Regions from separate parts of the Homo sapiens genome. Here region 1 is linked to region 2. Evidence: fine-mapped expression QTL. A gene starts in region 2. The other region holds a variant in brackets. All regions are shown on one strand. Distances are from middle to middle.

Region 1 (2,905 bases), 25 kb before region 2:
TTCTACCTAAGTTTTAGCATAAAAACTTCTCTAATTTTTGGAAGGGGAGGTTGTTGGTGTTATTTGCTGGTTTGATTGGTTGAATTTTTTAGAATGTGTGTGGTTTTTTTTTTTTGCTTTATTTAGGTTTTACCTGTTTGTTTCAAAGAGCAAAAATAACTCCATAGAACACTTATTTATAGCGCTGTTAACAAGAGCTCCAAGGAAGAAATAATTTCAACTATGTTTCCCTAGATAATATAAGCAAATATCCAAAAGAGTAAATACATATTCCAGGGCAGAATCATACATCGCTAAAGGTCTTCAGGGTTTACAATAAGTAATGTGGGCATGTAAAAATTTATCCCCAATGGTCAATGAACATTACTACGGATTAACTCTACATCACATTGAAATTTAGTCCTCAACTCTCTTCTTACAAAACAGAATCCACAGTAGTTGGCCTTGGCTGTGCTGTGTCATAGATTTTATAGGGATCAATTTTGTACTTTGACAAAGCTCGTATCTAAAAAGTTTAAAGTACAAAATACATCTCATCTAACTGATCTTCACGACTTCTCAACACATGATTAGGAAGCAATGTTACTACCAGTTTATCCTAACCTGTGCAATGAGCAGAGCATGAACTAAAGGACAGAAGGGATAGGCTGCCATTGCAGTGCTGGGGGACCCTGAAACCAAACTACCACCTTAAAAGAAATAATAGTAGCCGGGCGCGGTGGCTCACGCCTGTAATCCCAGCACGTTGGGAGGCCAAGGCGGGTGGATCACGAGGTCAGGAGATCGAGACCATCAGATCGAGACCATCCTGGCTAACATGGTGAAACCCCGTCTCTACGAAAAATACAAAAAAAAAATTAGCCGGGTGTGGTGGTGGGCTCCTGTAGTCCCAGCTACTCAGGAGGCTGAGGCGGGAGAATGGCGTGAACCCGGGAGGCGGAGCTTGTAGTGAGCCGAGATCGCACCACTGCACTCCAGCCTGGGCGACAGAGCGAGACTCTGTCTCCAAAAAAAAAAAAAAAAAAAAAAAGAAAGAAAGAAAGAAATAATAGTAAACACAATATACCCTTATTTTTCTATTTCCTAAATAAGTACTACACGGTTATCCCCGCCATTTCTTTTTTTTTCTTTTTTGGAGACAGTCTCCCTCTGTTGCCCAGGCTGGAGTACAGTGGTGTGATCCCAGCTCACGGCAACCTCTGCCTCCTAGGTTCAAGTGATTCTCATGCCTCAGCCTCCCAAGTAGCTGGGATTATAGGCGTGTGCCACCAAGCCCGGTTAATTTTGTATTTTAGTAGAGAAGGCGTTTTGCCATGTTGGCCAGGCTGGTCATGAAGTGGCCTGGCCTCAAGTGATCTGCCCACCTCAGCCACCCAAAGTGCTGGGATTACAGGCGTGAGCCACCATGCCCCAGTCCCATTGTCTTTTCTATCTTACATAAATCATAATCCACTTAGAAACAAAAAACTCTCAACATGGATGCTCTTAGATACGAATATTTCTAATTAATCAAAATGAATTAATGTAATCATTATAGATTCCACCAGAGGGAACGACTTCTGCGTCCTAATCATGTGTTTAGAAGCTGCTCATTAACATCAGTTAAAAATGTTTTCTCAGCCAGGCGCAGTGGCTTATGCCTGTAATCCCAGCATTTTGGGAGGAAGGGGCGGGTGGATCACAAGGCCAGGAGTTCGAGACCAGCCTGGCCAACATGGTGAAACCCCATTTCTACTAAAAATACAAAAGTTAGCTGGGTGAGGTGGCAGATGCC[T/G]CTTCACCTGCTGATAATGGAAATAAATGGAAATGCAGAGAGAGAGAGAGAGAGAGAAAGAAAGAGAGAGAAAGAAAAAGAAAGAGGAAGAGAAAGAGAAAGAAAAAGAAAGGAAAAGAAAGAAAAGAAAAGAAAGAAAGAAAGAAAAGAAAAGAAAGAAAGGTGATGTATTTCACAATTAATAGCATGTCACGGTTAACTGGCAGCATTCTTTCTTTCTTAGTGGTACACAAAACACTGGTGTGAGTTATAATCGATGAGATTATATAACCGAGGCTTTAACTCGATAGCATGCGATAATTTCCAGGACTCATTTACAAACCCCTTCTCTTACTTAAAAACTGATCTCCTTGTCATATCCTAAGGACATTGGAAGTGTGTCAAAGGGTGTGTTAAAGTTTGTACTTTAATACTTCACATGAAAAATGATACACAAAACAACTTCCCGGTGTCCATGAATCTTTAACCCGCATAAAAGACTTTGTTCTATTTCATTGTGACCTCACTCGAGTCTGGTTCACATTATCAACAGGTCACAGGTTATGAAATCATCTCTATCAGCTTTGAAATGCACTGCACCACCCATTCAAACACACACACACACACTCAACCCACTTTTTTCCTGACGTTTCAAGAAGGAATAAAATCTTACTAATTTTTTCAAATTTACAAACACAACACAGGTATCAGTAACATAATCTTCTAGGAGGAGTTACTCTATCTCAATATCCCCACAGCCATGAGTTACAAACTTCAAAAACAAAACAGACCATTTGGAAGTATGCTGATTTGAACTACCAAAAATAAATAAACAAAATTTTTTCGTTTAAAACTGAGTGGAGCTCTGAGGAAAGTCCAAAGTGCCAGAGTAAACCATTTCATCTTCACAAAAATAACCCAAGTCAAGCTGAAAATCGATACCAAAGGCACTAGAGGCAGTGACCATTATTACCATAAAGGCAGAACGTGCAACATGTTCTATTTAGCTTGGTTCTAGTCTATACACCACTCATACGATTTAGTCTTTACCGATGAAAATACTGGAGTTCCTTTAAAATGGAGAAACCTAAAAGAGAAAATGCCCAGGAATAAATGAGAAAAAAATGCTATAGGCCAAAATAATCTTGTACT
Region 2 (2,875 bases):
GCCAGGCTGGTCTTGAACTCCTGACCTCAAGTGTTCCACATGCCTTGGCCTCCCAAAGTGCTGAGATTACAGGTGTGAGCCAGTTCACCTGTCAAAAGAAAGAAAATTTTTAAAAAGTCTCTCGGAGATGTCTTTCCTGTTTGGTGCCACCTGAATAGTGGCAAACCTTTCCATTATGTATCAGGTCACCACCGCATCTGCTAGAAGCCCCCCTCGTCCAGGGTGGGATGACCTGCTCCTATAAAGCCAAACTTACCGGGAGCTCAGTCTCTTGGATTTTTAAAATATGGGTGTCTCTTTTCCCCGGTTCCTGATGACATTGTGTCCCAAGGTGCCAAGGGGGCCTTTCCCTCAGTCCAGAGGGGTTTTCTGACCACCTGCTAAGTTCCAGACACGGGCCGACTGTGCATGACAGGCCCACGGTTCTAGGCCCAAATACTCAGTTGCCTTTGCCCCATATGCTGTTATTGTCCACATCACTTGCTGCCAAAACCCAGGACTGAGCTGTGGAGGGAACAGCTGGAATGCACCTTGGAGGACGTTGTTGACACGCCGCTCAGTCGCCGTTCGTGCCCTGGTGTTTGTCTTGCAGACAGAGGCTCCGTGGTGAAGGCGCGCGTGCTGACCTGTGTGGAGGGGATGAACCTGCCCTTGTTGGAACAAGCCATCCGGGAGCAGAGACTGTACAAGCAGGAGCGGGGCGGCAGCCAGTAGGAAACAGCAGCCTAGCAACACCCTCACCTGCTTCAGAGCCCGAACCCTCTGGAGCTGCAGGAGCCCGGGAGAGCACAGACGCCTCCCCAGCGACGGCCTTGTCTGGAGCTCGAAAGCCGAGGGGCGGGTGATGAATCCAGCCCCTTCCCCTACTTTGGGATTGGCTCAGCAATGAGAACCCAGAAAGCATGCCATAAATCCGACAGCCCCACCCCAGGAGACTGCAGGTGGCCGAGCTTGGGCGCCGGGGCCGTGCTTGGTGTGGGGCCATGGAGGGTTCCAGAAGGTCCTGGTGAATAAAGGCCCAGGGGGCGTGCTCTTGAAGTGTGCTCGTGGTGCAGCGCCGGCGGGGGCCAGGAGGGGGAGCTGCAACCCAGGCTGTGGGCTGCAGCCTCTCAGGGCTTCTGGTGAATTCTGGGCCTGGGGCCTCAGGGTAGGGCACCAGGGGCCCAGGGGCTGGGGTGGGGGGCCCAGGATGCAGGGGTCTGCCCCTGGCCAGGCTCTGCCTTCAGAGGAGGCTGAGCGTCGTCACACGGGCCGGGCTGAGGCCCTGGGCCCTGACCGTGCAGCCTAAGACAGGACTGTGGCTTTAAGACCCTCCTGACCCCTGACCTCTGCCCCCAGTGGCCCTGGCCCCTGGGCAGCCCTTCCTGGCCGCCATGTGTACCCAGAGCCTGGGACTGGCTGGGCTGGGCAGTGACCCAGGTGGGAAAGGGTGGTCTTGCCCTCTAAGGCCCGGCACAAGTGAGAGGCCTGGGGGTCCATGTTGGGCTGGGCTGGGCGAGGGGTGGTCTCTGACTTCCTGGGGGTTCTGGCTGGGATGGGCAGGGGGCTGGGTGGGAGAGTGTGGGCCCTGCCCTCCGAGGCCGGGCATGGGCGAGAAGCCTGGGGGTCCTGGCTGAACTGGGCTGGGTGAAGGGGGCCCCCTGACCCCCTTGGGGTCCGGGCTGGGCTGGGTGAGGGGCGGTTTCCGACCCCCAGCCAGGTTCCCAGGCAGGATGAGCTGGGGTTGGGGTGGCTAGGCCGTGGGCCTTGGGAGCTGGGCAGTCTGGGCTGGGCTGGGCTGGGCAGGGCGCCACATGGAAGCTGGAGGAGCAACGGGAGCGCTGGGCGTGGGGTGCAAATTGCCCGGTGCCTTCTGTTTCCCAGGCAGCTCTGTGGCCATGGATATGTTCCAGAAGGTAGAGAAGATCGGAGAGGGCACCTATGGGGTGGTGTACAAGGCCAAGAACAGGGAGACAGGGCAGCTGGTGGCCCTGAAGAAGATCAGACTGGATTTGTGAGTGCTGGGACGGCCCCTGAGTTACCCACCCTGGGCCATCACAACCTGGGCGCTCCCTGATCCGTTCCCTCTTTCCTGGAGTCCACGTTTAACTCCTCTGGGTGCTGCCCAGCAGCCCTTACCTGTCCTCTCCCCAGTTCACTGCCTTCTGACCAGCCTTTGCCGGGGCCCTGACTGTGGAGTTTGGTGGATGACGTGCCAAGGAGCACAGGTCTCCATTGCCGGGGCCCTGGTCATTCTGTGGGGTTAAGGAGAAGCCGATCCCCCTGGCTGGAAGTGCCCTTCTTGGCCCAAGTCTCTGCCCACGGCTGTGCCCTTGTTTCTTGCAGGGAGATGGAGGGGGTCCCAAGCACTGCCATCAGGGAGATCTCGCTGCTCAAGGAACTGAAGCACCCCAACATCGTCCGGTGAGTTGGGGATTGAGGTGGGGAAGCTGGGATGGCGAAGGTAGCATCCTGACTGCCATCTCCCTGTCAGACTGCTGGACGTGGTGCACAACGAGAGGAAGCTCTATCTGGTGTTTGAGTTCCTCAGCCAGGACCTGAAGAAGTACATGGACTCCACCCCAGGCTCAGAGCTCCCCCTGCACCTCATCAAGGTAGGGAAGGAAGGGCAGGGAAGGAGAGGTGACACCCCATCCCTGCCATCCCTGTCCACGCAGCACCTCCGCTCAGCTGGCTGCACCTCGCGCTCGTTTCTCCAGAGCTACCTCTTCCAGCTGCTGCAGGGGGTGAGTTTCTGCCACTCACATCGGGTCATCCACCGAGACCTGAAGCCCCAGAACCTGCTCATCAATGAGTTGGGTGCCATCAAGCTGGCTGACTTCGGCCTGGCTCGCGCCTTCGGGGTGCCCCTGCGCACCTACACCCATGAGGTATT

What was found. PIP is the estimated chance that this variant, and not a neighbour inherited with it, causes the effect.
Region 1: its variant is fine-mapped to the expression of CDK3 in whole blood (TOPMed, PIP above 0.99). The same link has a PIP of 0.9 or more in blood mononuclear cells.

The regions. Positions count from the first base shown.
Region 1 is chr17:75,974,044-75,976,948 of GRCh38, forward strand. All of the region lies in intron 2 of ACOX1 (acyl-CoA oxidase 1), which reads right to left. Among named protein-coding and RNA genes, the nearest start is that of ACOX1, 3.7 kb to the right of the region's middle. The variant T/G (reference allele first, on the strand shown) is at 1,775.
Region 2 is chr17:75,999,549-76,002,423 of GRCh38, forward strand. CDK3 (cyclin dependent kinase 3) reads left to right here and starts at 1,307. Exons shown (of 8, transcript NM_001258.4): 1 at 1,307-1,419; 2 at 1,864-1,993; 3 at 2,326-2,403; 4 at 2,474-2,594; 5 at 2,700-2,870. The coding sequence starts at 1,878. It overlaps TEN1 (TEN1 subunit of CST complex), which reads left to right. Exons shown (of 4, transcript NM_001113324.3): 4 at 593-1,038. The coding sequence ends at 714. TEN1-CDK3 (TEN1-CDK3 readthrough (NMD candidate)) reads left to right here. Exons shown (of 10, transcript NR_037709.1): 4 at 593-1,993; 5 at 2,326-2,403; 6 at 2,474-2,594; 7 at 2,700-2,870. LOC124904061 (a long non-coding RNA gene) reads right to left here and starts at 1,012. Exons shown (of 2, transcript XR_007065911.1): 1 at 257-1,012; 2 at 1-88. RefSeq lists an enhancer at 934-983 and a silencer at 1,114-1,193.